Regions from separate parts of the Homo sapiens genome. Here region 2 is linked to region 1. A link means that fine-mapping ties the variant in region 1 to the expression of a gene that starts in the linked region. Tissue or cell type: whole blood. Region 1 holds a variant in brackets; the other region holds the start of a gene. All regions are shown on one strand. Distances are from middle to middle.

Region 1 (8,952 bases):
GTGTGCCCAAGAGCCGCCACTGTGCACAGGGAAGGGGACTGAGATGCTTGGTTAGAGAGACAAACTAATCAATCCTTGCCAACCAGTGACACATCAGCAAAGGAGGTGAAAATATCATGGTTCACCTGGAAAGAGGAGCTACAACCAACAGGTGGACAGAGCCCAAGGAGAGATATCCAGAATATATGGCTTTCTGGGGGCTGGGTGGACAAGAATCTAGGATTTGGAACAAACAGAGATTAAGCCACAAGCAAAGGCCACCCTAACATCATAAATTAGGAGATGTTGCTATTACAAAACAGGAATTTCTGCAGAGGAACTTTCCGGAGTTTGGAAAATATACCAGAATCCGAGAACCGTCAGACCCATTATGCTCCATAAACTGTGGCCTCACGTGGTCAAGAGTAATACTGTAGATGAAGGCAGTCTAGCGTCCACCCTCCTGGCTCCACAGCTTCTCAGTGCTGTGACTCTGGACAAGTCACTTAGCTGTTGTAAGCCTTACTTCCCTTATCAGTAAAATGCAGATGGTACTAACTCCACATCAGGGAGGATTCCGTGAGGGAATACACATAGCACACCTGGCATAGAGCATGAGCTCAATAAGTTATTAGTTTGAGCTTTTAGAGTTGCAAAGGGAGTGTGATGGGGTTTGGCTCTCTTTCTTTCTAAAAAATTAATAAACTGGGAAATCAAAGGGCTCCCAGGGGAGCCTCCTGTATCAGGGAAGGGAGCAGGGTATCAGATGGGAAGGTAGACATTTGCTGTTTCAATGAGATGCCCCCATGATTTACGAGGGGAAATATCATTAGGATTTCACTTCTGGAACTTGGGCAGTCACCCACCAACAAAGCCTGCCCTTCAGCTGAAGGGAAAAAGCAGGTGCTTGGGAGCCAAATAGACTTGTGCTTAAATCCTCAACCAGCCGCTGACCTTGGACTTCAGCCCTCACCTCCCCTCTCACAGCCTTGGTTTCCTCATCCACATCCTATTTAATGCACACATATATTTTAAGATGACAAAGTATGTGACATGTCCATCCTGGTTACTCAGCAAATGTAAATTTCTCCTATGTGGCAGTAGGGACTCTAAGAGGCTGTGTTTGGAGAATGGAGGAAACCTGAATCTTAGCCTTTAATTACCAAGGAGTCTGGACATCTTGAATCCATGTAAGGTGAATTGGAAGGGCTTCCTTGCTCCCTCACCTAAGAGTCCCCCTCAGGAAAAACAGAAATCAGTGGAGAACCAGAGCCCATACTCGGCACTTCACAGTTTATCTGCAGAGAGACCTGACATCCTGTGGAAAACAACTCTGAATACCTACAGCCAAGAAATGGCATAGCTTCCCTAATGGTTCACAGGGCCAATAAAGAATCTGGCCAAATCTATCAAAAGCCTAGAAAACATCCTTACCCTTTGACCTGCTCATTTTGCTTCTAGAAACTTATCCCAAGCAAACATTTGAGATACTTATCCTCAGAAACTTATCCTAAGTACCTGAGATAGAGAAAAATACAAAATGCTCATCACAGAGTTACAAAGAAATCACAAAGAACATCTGACAACACCAACAGTACTGTACAATGCAAAAAGTAGACCCTAACTTAAATTATGGATGTAACTTAATGATAGTGTATGAATATTTGTTTCTCCAATTTTATCAAACGTACAACACCCATAGAAGATGTTAAAACAGTGGAGACTATGGGAGCAGGGGGAGGTAATACATGGGAACTCTGTACTTTCTGCTGAATTTTTCTGTAAACCTAAAACTGCTCTAAAATAAAGTCTACTATACCCTTAGTCATTTAGGAAACATGCTCTTAAATAACTACTGGGTCAAGGGGTAAAGAAATGGAATTACAAATTAGTTAGAAAATAGCAATAATGATAATAACACACATAATAATTCATAATAGTGATATGGCCAAAACTACAATCATAAGAAAATTATTAAATGATGTTGTCATTAAATAAGAAAGGATAAAACTAAACGCACCAGTGGTCCAACTTGAGAAGTTAAAAAGAGAACAACAAAATAAAAACTAAGAAAAACAGAAATGAAGCATTAACATAATTAAAAGTGGAAATTTATTCATTAAAAACCAAATAGTGGTCCAACTCAATTCTCTGAAAAACCTTACCCAAAACAAATTCTACCATCCACAAACCTCTGTCTAGTCTATTTAAAGAAAATGAGAAAACACAAACACACACAATGAGGAATATTTAACAAGGGAATTTGTTAACAAGAATAAAAGAATATATAACAAAAAATGGCAGTAATTCAAAAATGAGAGGAAATTATTTAGAACAATAAATTTGAAAATCCTCAATGAAACAAGGAATTTTTTGGGTAAATACAAATGAACACAACTGACAATAAAAATAAACAACATCAAATTAACCAAAAGCTATAGGTGAATTTGAAAAGGCTGTTAAGAATGATCTCTGAAGCATTATAAAATGTTTCAGACGACAGTAAAAAAAGGAACACTTTTCCACTCATTTTATAACATTTAATGACCTTGACAGAAAAATCTAATAATGCACAGTACACACTAAAACCACAGTCCAGTGTCACTTAGGAATATTCATTTTAAAAAATTAAATAAAATATTTTTAAATCCACTAGTATAACAGCAGAAAATATACTTCCATCAGCAGAGATTGGTCCCAGAAAAAGAAGTTATAAATTAGCATTATCATCGTATAAATTAGTAAAAAAAAAAACACATGATTTCATTAATTTTTCAAAGGCATCTGATAAGTCATTTCCTGTTTTTAAAAAATAGTCAACTAAGACCAAAAGAACAATCCTAGTCTCAAACTAACAGCCAACATCATACTTATGGTGATGTAATAATGACATTCCCATTAAAACCATGGGTAAGACTCCCATCACAATTAATATGTAACACCAGTAAAAAAATGCTAGCCTACCAAACAAAGCAAGTAAAAGAAATAAGAGCTTCAATTACCAGGACAGACAGAGAAAATGACCACTGTTTGCTTAGGATACAATTGAAGTTAAAATATCAACTAAGACAAGCAGACTTTAATAACTAAAAGAGAGTCACAAACATAGCAGGCTATAAAATAAGTATTCAATAACCAATAGTTTACCCTATAAAATTAACAAGCAAAAAATATATTTGGGAGGCTGGGGCAGGAGGAATGCTTGAGCCTAGGAGTCCGAGACCAGCCTGGGCAACATAGCAAGACCCTGTCTTTACAAAATACTTAAAAATTAGTTGTGTGTAGCGGTGAATGCCTGTAGTACTAGCTGCTCAGGAGGCTGAGAGGGGAGGCTTGCTTGAGCCCAAGAGTTCAAGGCTGCAGTAAGCTTGATCATTCTACTGCATTCCAGCCTGAGTGACAGAGCAAGACTCTGTCTCAAAAAAAAAAAAAAAATATATATATATATACACACACACATATATTTTGAAAAATATTTGATATTTTATATCAAAATATTTGCCATTTTGATAAATATTTGATATCTATATATTTATTTGACATTTTATATATTTAACAGGGAAAGGTATATTCATAATAACAACAAAAGCAAAATTGAACAGAACAAAATACCTAGGGAAAAATGTAACAATATGTAAAATCCACACAAATCAAAATAACAAATTATTGGAGGACCTAATTAGACCTAGGTAAATTAGAGAGATAAGCCAATTGGCCTATTATAAATGAGTCTATTCTTTCCAAGTCTACTAATAAATACCATTCTGATCCCAGCTACTAAGATTTTATTTTACTTAAAAATTGACTCCATAAATTCATATGTAAGATAACTGGGCTAGTGTAGTCAATAAAACTTCGAAACACAAGAATACAAGGAAGGCTTTACTATAAATAAATAAATAAAATAAGGCATTCCAATACAGAGGTATGGTATCTAAGGAAGAATAAGACATTAGATAACTGAAAAAAATCAAAAGTCCAGAAATATTAATAGATCAATGATCTTAATTGTTGGTAAATGTGAGATTTCATATAAATGGGAAGTAAATGGATTAGTCAATAATCGGTGTTAGACACCAATTATTAATAATTAGTTACACAGAAAAGAACTTAGCTAAGACATTTTACCCCTATCTTTACACCAAAATAAATTTAGTATAAAATAAATTCCAGATAACTTACATATAGAAGTAATAATAACTACAATAATAAACAAAAGTAATAACTACAATAATAAACAAAAGTATAAAAAACCTAGATGTACATCTTGAGGTGGTTTTGCAAGGGGTTGGGGAGGTAATTTCGAAGTAAGAATCAAAATCCCAAATGTGTACAACACTGGATGCAGAAACGCTTTTTTCTAGGATTTTAATATACCATACAAGTGTGTAAACACATAAATACAGAAGTTTGCTGCAGCACTTTTTTTTTTTTTTTTTTTTGTGACTGAGTCCACACTGTCGCTCAGGCTGGAGGGCAGTGGCACGATCTCCGCTCACTGCAAGCTCTGCCTCCCTGGTTCACGCCATTCTCCTGCCTCAGCCTCCCGAGTAGCTGGGACTACAGGCACCCGCCACCACACCCAGCTAATTTTTTGTATTTTTAGTAGAGACAGGGTTTCACCGTGTTAGCCAGGATGGTTTCAATCTCCTGACCTCCTGATCCGCCCGCCTCTGCCTCCCAAAGTGCCGGGATTACAGGCGTGAGCCACCACGCCCGGCCTGCTGCAGCACTTCTAATCATATCAAAAAATCAGAAATATTCTAAAATTCCGAAGACTGGTTAAGGAAATCACAGTACCTCTGGGTTCTATAATATAAGAAAATACTAACCAGACATTAAGAATTTTGGTGTAGAAAAATATCTGACCCAGGAAAATATTTGAATAATTGCTAAATGGAAAACACATGTTACAGCATACTAAGACATATGACCCCATATGTACATACCTGGGTATAAATGTAATATCTACAAACCATATACTATATATATATATATATATATATATATATATATATATGGTTTATATAAATATATGGTTTATATATATATATATGGTGTGTATATATATATATAATTTGA[T/G]ATGTTAATCTACCTATGATATAGGTTAGTGTCTCTGAGTGATGGATGTATGCATAATTTCTGTGTTGGGTATATTTGTGCCTTTTGAATACTTCACATTTTCCACAGTGAATGGAGATGACACTTGAAATTTGAAAAAAGGTTAATGTTTTAAAAATTGTGAAATGTGCACAGAAAGTCTAGTCCTAAGCAATGTGATTTTTTTGTCAAGCGCTTCAATACGAACTGAACTCAAATGTGTATTGTCAGGAAACAAAATGATTGTTAACTATCGATGAGTCATGACCAATATGCCAGTTAAATATTATCTCATTTTAAAACAACAGGCTGAATCAGTGGGCAGGAAAAGTTTTGTGATGATGGTTATGAGTGCATCGATCAAATTGTTCCTTTTGGTTTGGGTTAGTGTTTGCTACTTCTGTGGCTTCTCTGAGGTGGAAAAACACATTTAGGAGAGTGAAATGATACCTGGAAGTAAATGTATAACCATAAAGATGCAAGTGCATGAGGAAGAACTGCATTGAGAAAAAGTCAACACACGACTGCATAACAACAACACATTCAGCAATTGCACAAACCACTTCAAGCCTAAACACACTTGTAAAAGATTCCCTAAGACCAGGAAACTACCAGGGGAATTCTAAGATTCCCTGAAACATGGGGAAAGAGCTTGAACTGTATTTTTTTGAGGTCCTGTCCTAAATTCTAGGAAAACTGACTCAGACTATTTAGAAATGACTAGAGTTACTAGAAATTACTGTCTCAGGGTAAATTAACTGTAGAGGCATAAAACCTTTTCAGACATTAGTACCCCAGTTTGAAACTATATTTCATTTTAAGAAAATGGCGAAAATTTAGATTTATAAATTGGGTGTCACTGTTCACTTTATAAAGATGGTTTGCTATAGGACTCCCTTAGACTAGCAGGCTGCTTTCATGCATGACGATATTATCCAACTTGGGGATGCATTAATCTATTGTGCGAGGCAAGGCACACCTCAACTAGGCAGTTTAACTGCACCAGCAACTGTCCCTAAGAAAGCCTCCTGTTACACACTTGAGAAAGTTCACTGCCTCTGGCTCATTAAAAACAGTGTCAATAGAGAATAGAAGAATGGCTATCACAGACTGTGAAGGGTAGTGGGGGGTTGGAGGGGAGATGGGGATAGTTAATGAGTACAAAAAAAATAGAATGAATGAATAAGACCTACTATTTGAAAGCACAACAGGGTGACTATAGTCAATAATAACGTAATTGTACATTTTAAAATAACTAAGAGTGTCAATGGATTGTTTATAACACAAAGGATAAATGCTTGAGGGAATGGATTCCCCATTGTCCATGATGTAATGATTACACATTGCATGCCTGCATCAAAACATCTCGTATACCCCATAAATATATGCACCTACTATGTCGCCACAAAAATTAAAAATTTAAAAAGAAAAACAGTGTCAAAATCATTGTATTCCTTGTAAGTATCTTCTCACCTACGCTTCTATTATTGACTGGGGGATAAAAATCTTATAAGCCAAACAGATCAACTAACTACCAGAGGGGGCAGTCCATCTAGAATGCAGGATAGATGAAATTAGAGCAAGAACATTCAGAGTTGAACAGTTATCCAGGGCCGTATTCTTGAAATCATAGAAACTGAAGGTTGCACTCACCCTGATGTTGAGCTGTCTCTTAAAGGGGAAAAAGAAACATTAAGGGCCGGTGCGTCTGTGGATTTAATGCGCAAAGGTGACAAAAACCAAATTATTAATGCCTGGGCAGTGAAGGTGATGGCAACCAAACGGACAATGTGCAATAGACTTCAGAATGTAGAGCGTTGTTAATTGTGAAGAAAAAGCCATACACTCAGTCCCACAAAGGAGAGAGGGTACAAGGACGCCAGCATCACCTGGCTGGGGGGAGACTTCTCAGAAATGCAGATTCTCAGGCCCCACCAGGGACCTACTGAATCAGAAACTCAGCAGGTGAAGCCCAGCAATCTGTTTGAACAAGCCCGCCAGGGGATTCTGGTGGGGCTCCAGGTTGAACCACCTGTGGTTACCAGGCAGCCATCTGGGTTCCAATCTATCACTGAGGACCTGTGTGACTTTGGAAAAGTTATTTACCACTGTGAGCTTCTGTTTCCTCATCTGTGAATTTGGGTTCATCGAAGTATGCGTTTTCATCAAACGGTTGTTGTAAGATTATAACACACCCAGAGCTTAGTAGAGAGCTTGACGTCTAGTAAAAGTGCCCCAAGAGTGGTGGTGCTGGTGGTCTTGAAGGTTCTTCTTTTTAATTATTGACAGTCCTGCCACAGCTCTCAAAATGAGTGTTCCCTGGCTCCCACCTCCCTGTAGATCAGAATCACCTGCGGAGCCTTTTCAACACATCATCCTTTGCAATTGTTGAATCAATAGATCTGAGAGAGGCCAGGAAGACCAGATCTTATAGGAGCCCCCAGGTGACTTAGATGTGAAAGCCCTAACTTTAGAAAACTAAAACATATTTTGAGATTCAAAAGGTATATCTACATCTATTAAAATACATACAACTATTATATGTTAATAAAAATACAAAAGAAGATGCTGGGAAAACTACTTTGGATATTTGAAAGTTACTTATTAAATATAATGCACATAAAATAACATGTGAATGTTCAATCTAATAAAGGAGAAAATTAAAAAAAAAAAAAAAAACAAAGACTGGCCAGGCACGGTGGTGCACAAAAATCCCAGCATTTTGGGAGGCCAAGGCAGGAGGATTGTTTGAGGCCAGGAGGTCAAGACTAGCCCAGGCAACATGGCAAAACCCCATCTCTACAAAAAATACAAAAATTAGCCAGGCATAGTGGTACACAACAGTAGTCCCAGGTACTCGGGAGGCTGAGGCAGGAGGATCACTTGAGCCCAGGAAGTCGAGGCTGCAGTGGGCCAAGATCATGCCACTGCACTCCAGCCTGGACAAGAGTGAGACTTGTCTCAAAAATAAATAAATAAAAAACAAAAAAACAAAGGCTACATCTATTGTCCAGAAGCGCTAGGAATAAAGTTCAAATGAACTTCAGAAGAGTCGCAGAGTGAAATTCTGACTATACAAATGCAGACCATCGCAAGGAAGAGAAGAAAGAACGTAAGAAAGCACGACTGTGCAAAGAGGTGAGCCAGGCTTCAACGGGAGCAAACCAAACGTGGAAAGAGCAGAATATGACTACAGTCCATACAAGCAGCACAGCTCCAAAAAGCCTGAACACGGTGGGCAACGCTAAAACCCAGAAGGAACTCACAATCGCCAAAGCGTCAGATGGCATCAAGTCATTTCAGGCCAAAGCGTGATGCAGAGGTCACGCCACTGCTTGGAAAAGTTGCTGCCATGGTGCCAGAGAAAACTACACTTGACCTCATTCATGTATTTCATACCTGCTAATTCACCTACTGTCTATAAAGTATTTGTAACCCCAAAATTATCCTTTTGGAGCTTGTCCAGTCTTTTGGGCACAAGCACAAAGCAGTGGAAAATTCATGTCATCAATTGCAAGTGTCCAGCTGAGGTGAAGCAAGGTGACTCTCTGCCTTCTTGTTTGAGCTCTCATAGGGCAGAGACGTGTCCTTTCTGCTCCCTGGTGTCCCTAAATGCAAGAAGACTGTCATGTGCCTAAGGACAGAATGTGTGTGTTACATCTGTGAGCTTCATTCAAGCATGAGCTACAGTACTGCTGGCCATGAGTTCAATGTTAATGATCCACAATATATATTTAATAATGTGTCTTTAAAGAGAAACACACCATAAAATTAGGTTATATATTAAATGGTTGACAGAAACATTGTGACCAGAGGCTTACAACTGTAGTCCCAGCTACTTGGGAGGCTGAGGCGGCAGGATCACTTGAGCCC
Region 2 (8,952 bases), 47 kb after region 1:
TTTTCTTATCTACCATTGAGCCAAGTCAAAATGCGTATGCAGCCTAGACCTGGCTCACAGGCTGCCACTCCATGGCCCCTATGTTTAGCCGAATATAGACCAGGGCATCTGGCTAAGAAATTTCACTTTCGATCCAGACAGATACCTGACTCTAAGACATAACCCAAAATTTAAAATCACCTTCCTATAAGTGATGGCTACAATGCACCAGAAGATGATGAGAACTCCACTACAGGAGAAACAAACCAGAACTATCTATCAAGATCCAAGATTTTGGAACCTGAGCTTGATTTCTTATTTCTTCACTATGATTGAAGAGTGCTATTACATAAACAAAGTTTTCGTTTTCTGGTGTCTTTAAAAATCAGCACCTATTCCTAACAACTGCTTTATGGAGGTTCACTCTTTACAACTTAATTGTCTGAAATGCCAAAGAAAAGATGAAGAATCTCTACAATCCAAATCACACTTCACCATAAAGGCTCAAAGATAATGTCAGCAGACACACAGGTGAAATATATCAATTACAAACGTAAGAACTCTTGGCCCACTAAAAACGTGGTTTCTTGAGTAGAGATTGCGAGAAGCCATTTTATGTACACTTTAGTATAATATTTAATGAAAGTAATAAACAGGTCTCATAATTTAGAATGAAATCTGTTTTCTTTTTTTCCTTTCAAGGCCAGTCAACATACACTGGATATTCCAATATTTTTCTTAAATCAATATGCTACTTTTTACCCACATAACAACTTTACAGTCAGAAATATATATGCTAATGTACACTTAGCACTTCTTAATTGTTCTTAAAGCTAAATTTGAACAATAAATTAAATTTCTCAGTATATGTTATGTAATGTAGACACAGGCTATAAAAATGTTGACATTCGTTATATTCTCGTAATGCAATTTAGCCCTTTTAGTAATGACTATGCAAATAATCAGCCATGGGAAAGCCATTTTCCATCTAGTACAATTACCTACTATCACAGAAGTAATTATTATTATTGTCCTCCTTAACTGAAATTCTATAAAAACTCTTGAGATACTAAGATAGTTCCAAGGCCACCGTGAAAACTCTCCTCTTAACAGACTAATCTGGCAACGACAATTACCAGCGTTAAGGAGGGCAGTTGCAGATGAACATTAAACAAGAAATTATCCCCAGAAGGTTCATAAGTTCTAAACTTTAAATGGGGAAATACTGATGACTCCTAGTACATCCTCTTAACACCTTCAAGACACAACTTTTCACTCAGGCAAGGTCAACAGCTCTAAGCTGACTCAACCTCAATTCGTAGAAAACCATGATTCCAACCAGATCACTTTCACCCCTAAACAATATCTACTTTTAGCCAATGTCCCCACAGTACTGGTTACACATAAGGAAACTCAATCAAACCTTCTATTTTACTGTGCTTCAATTTTCAATTTCAGAAATTGTTCCACCATCTTGAAACAGACCAAGGCGCTTGGGTGATCCATTGGCCACATTTGCCGAAGTTCTTCACAAGATCTCTATCCAACTTCACCTTGTCTCTTAGCATAGAGATGAGGACGGCCACAGGGTAGTGAAGAGGGCAACATACACCATTCTTTCAAGGAGCTCTAAGGTCTCCCACCCACCCCACCTGAACCTGCTGGCCGGCAGTCCAGGCCTGGGCCTCACCAACTCCAGAATCATTCACAAGAACATGGTCACACAGGAGACCTGTGCTCCTTTCTCCATTCTTCTTCTCTAACGCCAGTCAGCAAACCCACCACCTGAAAAAGCTTCAACTGCCCACGAGGGCCTAGAGGAAAGAGCTTCTTAGGAATCACCCCCTGCAGTCTGTCGTGGGTGGATCACCCTACAATGTCTTATGCAAAAGGCTAATTCTACCCCTTCTGGGTGCTTATCTCAATGGAGCCCCAAAGCCTTAAGAACCAGATGGCGTTAACCAATTTATGTTCCGGGAAGTGCAGGTCCAGGCTAACCCATGCGGCTGGTTTCACGGAGGCCCAGAAGGCCCTCTGGTTGAAGATGGCTGGTCTCTTAACTTCTTTATCCTGAACCTGGTCTTGGCGGCCAACACCTCTGAGGCCATTCCCTCTGGGGAGTGGTGGCTGGCTGTTCCTTGTGTTGTCCACTTGTGGAAAACCCAAAGCAGTAACAGTTGTGTTCCTAAGCCCTTGCTCCCCAAAGACCATGGGTGTTCCTCCATTGTTTGAAAGATGCCAGACTAATGTCTTCCTTCGCCACTTTTGGGAAGACATGAGAGTATCCAACGCTGGCCACTACTCATTAGGACCTGGAGCCAGGTATCCACTGAGGGTGACGAGAGTACTGGGCGCTGGGCTGGCATCTGTGTCCTATGTCCCCAACACCTCAGACTTCCACGTTCTCCTCCCACCCAGGGCCCTCCGCAGCGCCCCCTTTCGCCCCCAGGGAGCACGACACCCGCAAGGGCCACCCCCACGCCCGAGCCCGGAGGGCGTCCGAGCTGGTGCGGGGGCAGCAGGTGGGGGGTGAGGGAGGTGGCCCGGGGACCCCGGGGAGCGGTTTGGCGGTTGTCCCCCCGAACCCCCACCCAGCCTCCCCCTTCGCAGCCCCCCGGGACCCCGCCTCGCCCCGGCCAGGCTCCGCTCCGATCGCCCGCCCCCCTCCTCCCCCGCGCCCCCGGCCCAGCCGGGCCGCGCAACCCCCGCCCCACACCCCCGCCGGCCGCGGCGCGCCCCCCCGCATTCCCAGCACGTCCGGCGCCGACTTTTACCTGTACTTTCTGTACTCGAGGCGGCTCGTCGGGCGAGAAACACCTCCCCGGGACCGCTACCTCCCCCGCCCCGGCTCCGCCCGGCTTCCTCCTTCCCCTCCAAGGCCGCAAAGTAGATGGAGTAAGAGAGTGTGTGTGCGAGAGAAAGAGAAAGAGGGAGCGGGCGCGGGCGCCGCGGGAGGCGGCGGGCGGCGGGCGGCGGGCGGGAGGCGCGCCCGGCCCCCGCCACCCTCCGGCCGCCGCCGCCGCCGCCGCGGGCTCGGCAACTCCGGATTGCGCCCGGCCCCGGCCCCGGCCCGGTCCCCGCCGCCCGCCGCCGCCGCCCGCCGCCGCCCGCTGACTGGGGCCGGCCCGCGCCCCCGCGTCCCCGTACCTCGTAAAGGTCCCCAGAAGCCATGCCAGGCTGCGGAACTTGGCTCGCCGGTGTGCGCGTCTGCTCGCTCGCGCCCTCCGTGCGTGTGCGCGCGGGGTCCGGTGTGCGCGTGTGTGTGCGCGCGTGTGTGTGCGAGTGTGTGTGGTGTGTTGAGTAAACTGTGTTTTTGCAGAATGACAGGCTTGGGGGCTGCCTATGCGCAGAATCAGAGCGGGCGGCGGCGGGGCTGGCGTAACCGGCAGCAGCGGCGGCGGCGGCGGCGGCGGCACGAGCGCGGGCAGCAGCGACGGCCGCGCAGCGCGCCCGGGAGGCACGGACGCGGCCCGAGCGCCGCGGCCCCCGCGACCCGGCGACCCGGCGGCGGTGGCTGCAGCCGGCAACGGCTCGCCCCGGCGCCGCCTGCAGGAAGCCGCCCGGCGCCCGCCGCCGGCCCGGACGCTGCTGCCACTGGGCGAGTCCCCGCCCCCCGGGAGCCCGGCCCGGCCCCCGGGGCGGGGAGGCGGGGGCTGCTGCCCGGCCGCGCCCCGGGGGACCGGTCCCAGAGTCGACTAGCGCTCGGGCCCGCCCCGCCACCCCGGGCCGGCTTCGGGAGCAGCTGGCGGGGCCCCCGGGGGGCGGCGGGCCAGGTGCCCGCCGGGTGCGCCCGATCTGGGGCCGCGAAGGGGCGGCCGGGGAGCCAGGTAGAGGGCTGCGGCTGCAGACCTCAGGGAAGGGGCCCCAGCCGAGCCCCGCCGGCCCGGGGTCCCCACCTACCTCCTCCACCCTCGAGGGGAGTGGACGCCGCCTGGGAGACCTGGCCCCTCGGGGCTGCGCGGCCCCTCCCTCCAGGCTGGGTTGTAAGATGTGGAGGCCACAGGGAGGAAGGATGAAATGGCCCATCCAGAGGCACCATGGGGATCCAGGACAGGCGTGGCCACCCCATAAACCCTGGAAAGTCTTTAGAGCCAGGGGTGGCCTTCCCTCAACAACCCCTCTCCCCGAATTTATTCACTCATCCCTTACTCAAACATTTACCAAAGTCAACCCAAGTGCACAGTGTCCCTGGACAGGCAAAACTGGGACCCTGCCCAGAGACAGTTTGAATCCGCAAGTGAGGAGTGTAATGGAGCACTCAGTTGTTCTAAAAGGTCATCCTGCGTGTGACAGGCTGCGGAGCTGGAGGAGCTAGAGAAGCTCTCCAAAACCCAAATCCGTTCCTAAGCCATCTCTCATGGATAAATGGTCACCCCTCTGCTTAAAGGGTTCTCCTTATAAATATTTATGTATATAGTTACTTCAGAACCTGCAAGGTCAGACTTCTGAAATTGGAGGGAAGATCTTCATCCCCACCCATGAAATGCCTGCCTGGCTCCAGATGTGATGTATCATTAACTCACATGCTCCCTGGATCATTTTCTACTTGGGAGGCTGTGGGCAGGTCACCGAACCCTGATGGGAGATGGTGATAGTCACCTAAGTGATTTAAATAGAATTAAGGAGAGGATCTACGTATACATGAAGTGACCTGTCCATCCCAGCAGAACTCAATAAAGGTGATTTGTATCTGAGTCTCAACCTGGACTGCCCTCATGGAGAGTGAGATGGCAGAGGGGCTCGATAAATTGTTTAATCCTGAGGTTGTCAAACTTTGAAAAGTCACCAAATTTTTTAATCCAAAAAAAAAAAAAAAAAAAAAAAACTCCATGGAACCTGAAGCATGTCTGGCTCATTCCAGGACACATGGATTTGCATTTGCTGTTCCCCCTGCCTAGAATGTCCTTCCACATTGAATCCATCTGGAACATTCTTGTTCTTCGTATAGGGGCTTGTTTATCTTTGTATCGCAAGCATCTTCCACTGTTCCTGAGAGAGAGTAGGTACACAGTGATTGTTTTTCGAACTATGCCAATATAACAAATTTTATACCAATTTCTAGTTAAAATCCCGCATGAAGATAAGGAAAAAATGGTGAGGATAAGGAATTAATAAATCAGAAAGCATATTTGGCTTAGAAACTGTTGAAATTGTTATAGAACTTCTCTCTTCATATTGATATTTTCCCGGTGGTCATGGTTTTAAATAATAACAGTAATAATAAGCAGTTCTCTATCTGTAGGTAGCTAAACAAATTTTAATGAGTCTTAATTTGTACTCACGAATAAATGCACCACCATAGCATGAGGATGTAATTTGGAAGAAGACAAGAAGGAAACTGGGCTTGGAAATAATATACTAAGCCAAATTTGAATATATAATCAGTAGTTTTACAAAAACACCAAAAGCTTGACTTGTACTGGCCAAGTACTCCCTGAGAATGTGAGTGCAGTTTGAAAAACCCTAGTCTAGACAACAGTTGTTTACAGAGTTCACAGAAGAGGATACTTAGTGTGGATGACCATGCTCAGGAAATGTTTTAGGACTGAAATGGATCTTGAAGACTCATAGAAAAGGAAGGACAGTGTTTTCCGTGAGGAGAAGAAGTCAGAGTAGATGGTAAGCAATTCTGCTATGGGAAGGGTATGAGAAGATTGGAGGACTGGTTTATGGAGGTCACAGGACCCTGGATGGTGAATGTGGGTCAGTTCGGAGATAGTCTTGAAAGCCAAGCTAAGAAGTTTGCTATTTAGTAGGTCAACAGTGGAGAAACTGATGAAGACTTTTGAATCAATCAAAAGCATGTGACTATCAAAAGTGCACTGTAGAAAACAAATTCTAGAAGAAATATGGGAAATCAACTGCAGGGTTTGAGGTTAGGGGCAGGGAGACCAATTGCAATGGTCCCTGGTGTTAGCAGTGGAAATGAAGAAGAAAAATGGGATTTGCGAGATGTTCAGAAGGAAGAACCAGGCTAACTTTCATTATGGTTACTCCACCTACTTCCATGAAGCATTCGATTCAGATCAACAGGACTTGATGACTAACAGGATGTGTGTGCATTGAGGACTTGGGGAGGGGCCGCGACTAAGGAAAGGATACAGAGATGACTAAGGTTTTAAACTGAGTGACTGAGCTACCCATCCGTCATAACACAATTTTATTTTGAGCTTACCCCCAGACCATGGCTAGCTTCCAGAAAAGGCAGGTGCTTCCTGAGGGATGAAGGGGGGAAGGGTCTTCACCCACTGTAGGAAGTTCAGCCCAACCAATTAACAGTGAGGCTCTAGGTTCTCCAGATGATAGAGAACTAGTGTTGCTCATGGAGAATGGAAGATAGCTGCCATCTTCCACAAACTGTGGTAGACTATTCATATTGGTCGTAACTCAAGATGAACTGATAGAAAGCTCTAACTTAAAACAACAGAGTATTTCCTGACTCATATAGACTAGAAAAGGATGGAATTGCTCTCAGGATTGGCCGGATTCAAGGTATGAAAGGATACAAAATAGCCTCTCTTACTCTCTCCTTCTTTCTGCATGCTGGTATCTTTCCTGCTGAAGACAGGCTTCTTCCATGCAGCTGAGAATATGGCACCTGGCCACTCACCTGGGCTTATGCCTTATACAGTATTTCTAAATCCCAGGGAAGGACTCTATTGGGCCAATGTAGCTCATATGCTGTCTTACTGGTCCAATCACCATAGTCAATAACTGATAGGACACTATGATTGGCCAGGCTTAAGTCATACTCCTATCTATGGGAACAATATGACAATTGGCAGTTTTACCAGAATTACATGATGGGAATCGGGTCTGAGCAGAAGCCTAAAGGAATGGTGGAAGGAATACTGAAACGGTAGGTGTTTACGCCAAAACAAATCTGAGACAGAAAGGGAACTTAGAAGCAAGGGCAGTAGCTGCCTGGAACACGGCCTTTTTAATATAATAGAGCAAGACCAGCAAGTGTAATGTCCAAGGAAAGATCGTATCCACTGCCTTAACAGTGGCATTGAAATGTGGCAATATTCTCCTTCCGGTATTACTTGAGACATAATCTTGACCTCCTGTATCCTGTGGTGGCTGAACATGTGGGCTCCAGAGGCAGATGGCCTGGGTTCCAATTCTTGCATCATCACTACTAGATATCTGGTGTCAGCCTCTTTGTTTAACCTCTCTACCCTTCCATTTCCAAATGTATGTGTTATTTATTACTGCATGATGAATTATCCCCAAAACTTAATGGTTTTAAACAAAAGGTTTTTCTAATTTCACAGTTTGTGTGGGTTGTGGATTTGACAGCAACTTAACTGGGGGTGGTTCTGGCTCAGGATCTCTTGTGAGATTGCAGTCAAAATGCTTGCTAGGACTGCATTGACCTGAAGGGTTGGCTGGGCTGGAGAATCCACCTCCAAGATGGCACCCTCATATGGCTGTTGGCAGGAGGCCTAAGCTCCTAGCCACATGGGTCTCTCCATAAAGTTGCTTGAGTGTTCTCATGTCATTCTGATCTTGGCCCCCCAAATCCAACAAAATGAAGCAAAACTGTCAAAGCTTCAACTCTTTCTAGCACAGAGCAGCTAACGAATCTGATGTTATAGTCCATGCTAAGAAGACTATTTGATGCACAGATGATTTACGACATGTCAGGTTGGATAACTGGAGATGTTATCTGATCCACACACCTCACTTTGAAGATGGAAAAACCAAGACCCACATTGGGTGATCCGAGAGAGAGAGCAAGGAGGAAGTCACAATGCCTTTGAATATCTCATCTTAGACACCAAACATAGTCACTTATTCTATTCTTTAGAACTGAACCACTAAGCCAAGCTCATACTCAAAAGGAAGCAAATTAGAATCCACCTTTTAAAGGGAGGACTATCAAAGAATTTATGGACATGGTTTAAAACCACCACACCCTATCTATAAATTGAGGTGATAGATACCCCATAGAGTTGTTTTGAGAATTAAATAAGCTAATCCATGCAAAGCATCTATAATAAGGGCTGAGTAATAGTCCCTGTTGTAATGACAACTATTACCCATTTCAAACTTAATATGAGTCACTAATATCCTTGAATGTCAAAGATTCCTATAGAAAGGCAGTAAGTCAAATAAAACCTTCAAACTGAGTATTGTTTTCAAGCTATGCAGAAATTCTTGTTACTAATTAGGCTTTATTTTCAGCATTCATTTGGTATATTTTACTTCCATAATAATGTTTATTATTATTAAAGTCATACTTATTTAGTATCTACAGTGTGCTAGATATTATTCTTGTTGAACAAAATAGTGTCCTACCCTTATGGAGCTTATTCTTGTTGAACAAAACAGTGTCCTTATGGAGCTTACAGTACAGAGGAGACAGAATAAACCAAGAAAATAAAACACATATATACATAATTTTATTTCAGGTAGTGATGTGAAGTAGGAAGAAAAGTGAAGCAGGTAAAGCGACAGGAACTGAGATGGAGGGTGCCGGGGACAGGAAGGGGTGCTGGCTTAGATAAGGTGCTTAGGCAATACCTCACTAAGGTGGTGACATTGCAACAGAAATTTGAACAAAATGAAGGAGGACACAAATCAAATCAAAGGGCAGAGAATGTCAGAGAGAGAAAATAGCAAGGGCAAAGCCCTGAGGCTGGAGAAGCTGGGTGTGTTCAAGGTCCTGCAAATAAGCCAGTCTGGCTGAAACCAACTGAGCAAGAAGGAACATGGGAAGAGATAGAGAGCTAACCAAGGTCAGGGTAGGCCAAGGGAAAGAATTTGGATTCCTCCAAGTGACAAGAGAGGTCATCTGGGAGGCTTTGAGCAAAGGAATGATACGATCGCATCACTCAGCTCCTAGATAGAGGAATGGCATGAAGAAGGACAAGGGTGACGTGGGCCACCTTTGCAGAAGTCGCTGAGTGAAGTCCTAGTGATGGGGAATAAGGAGGAAGCTGTCAAGATGAAGAGATGTAGTTGGAT

What was found.
Region 2: it holds the start of CDYL2, and the variant in region 1 is fine-mapped to the expression of CDYL2 in whole blood (INTERVAL, PIP 0.99).

Annotation. Positions count from the first base shown.
Region 1 is chr16:80,754,141-80,763,092 of GRCh38, forward strand. All of the region lies in intron 1 of CDYL2 (chromodomain Y like 2), which reads right to left. Among named protein-coding and RNA genes, the nearest start is that of CDYL2, 46 kb to the right of the region's middle. The variant T/G (reference allele first, on the strand shown) is at 5,062.
Region 2 is chr16:80,801,024-80,809,975 of GRCh38, forward strand. CDYL2 (chromodomain Y like 2) reads right to left here and starts at 3,575. Exons shown (of 7, transcript NM_152342.4): 1 at 3,127-3,575. The coding sequence starts at 3,150. RefSeq lists silencers at 2,356-2,505, 2,786-2,855, 3,466-3,775, 3,796-3,855.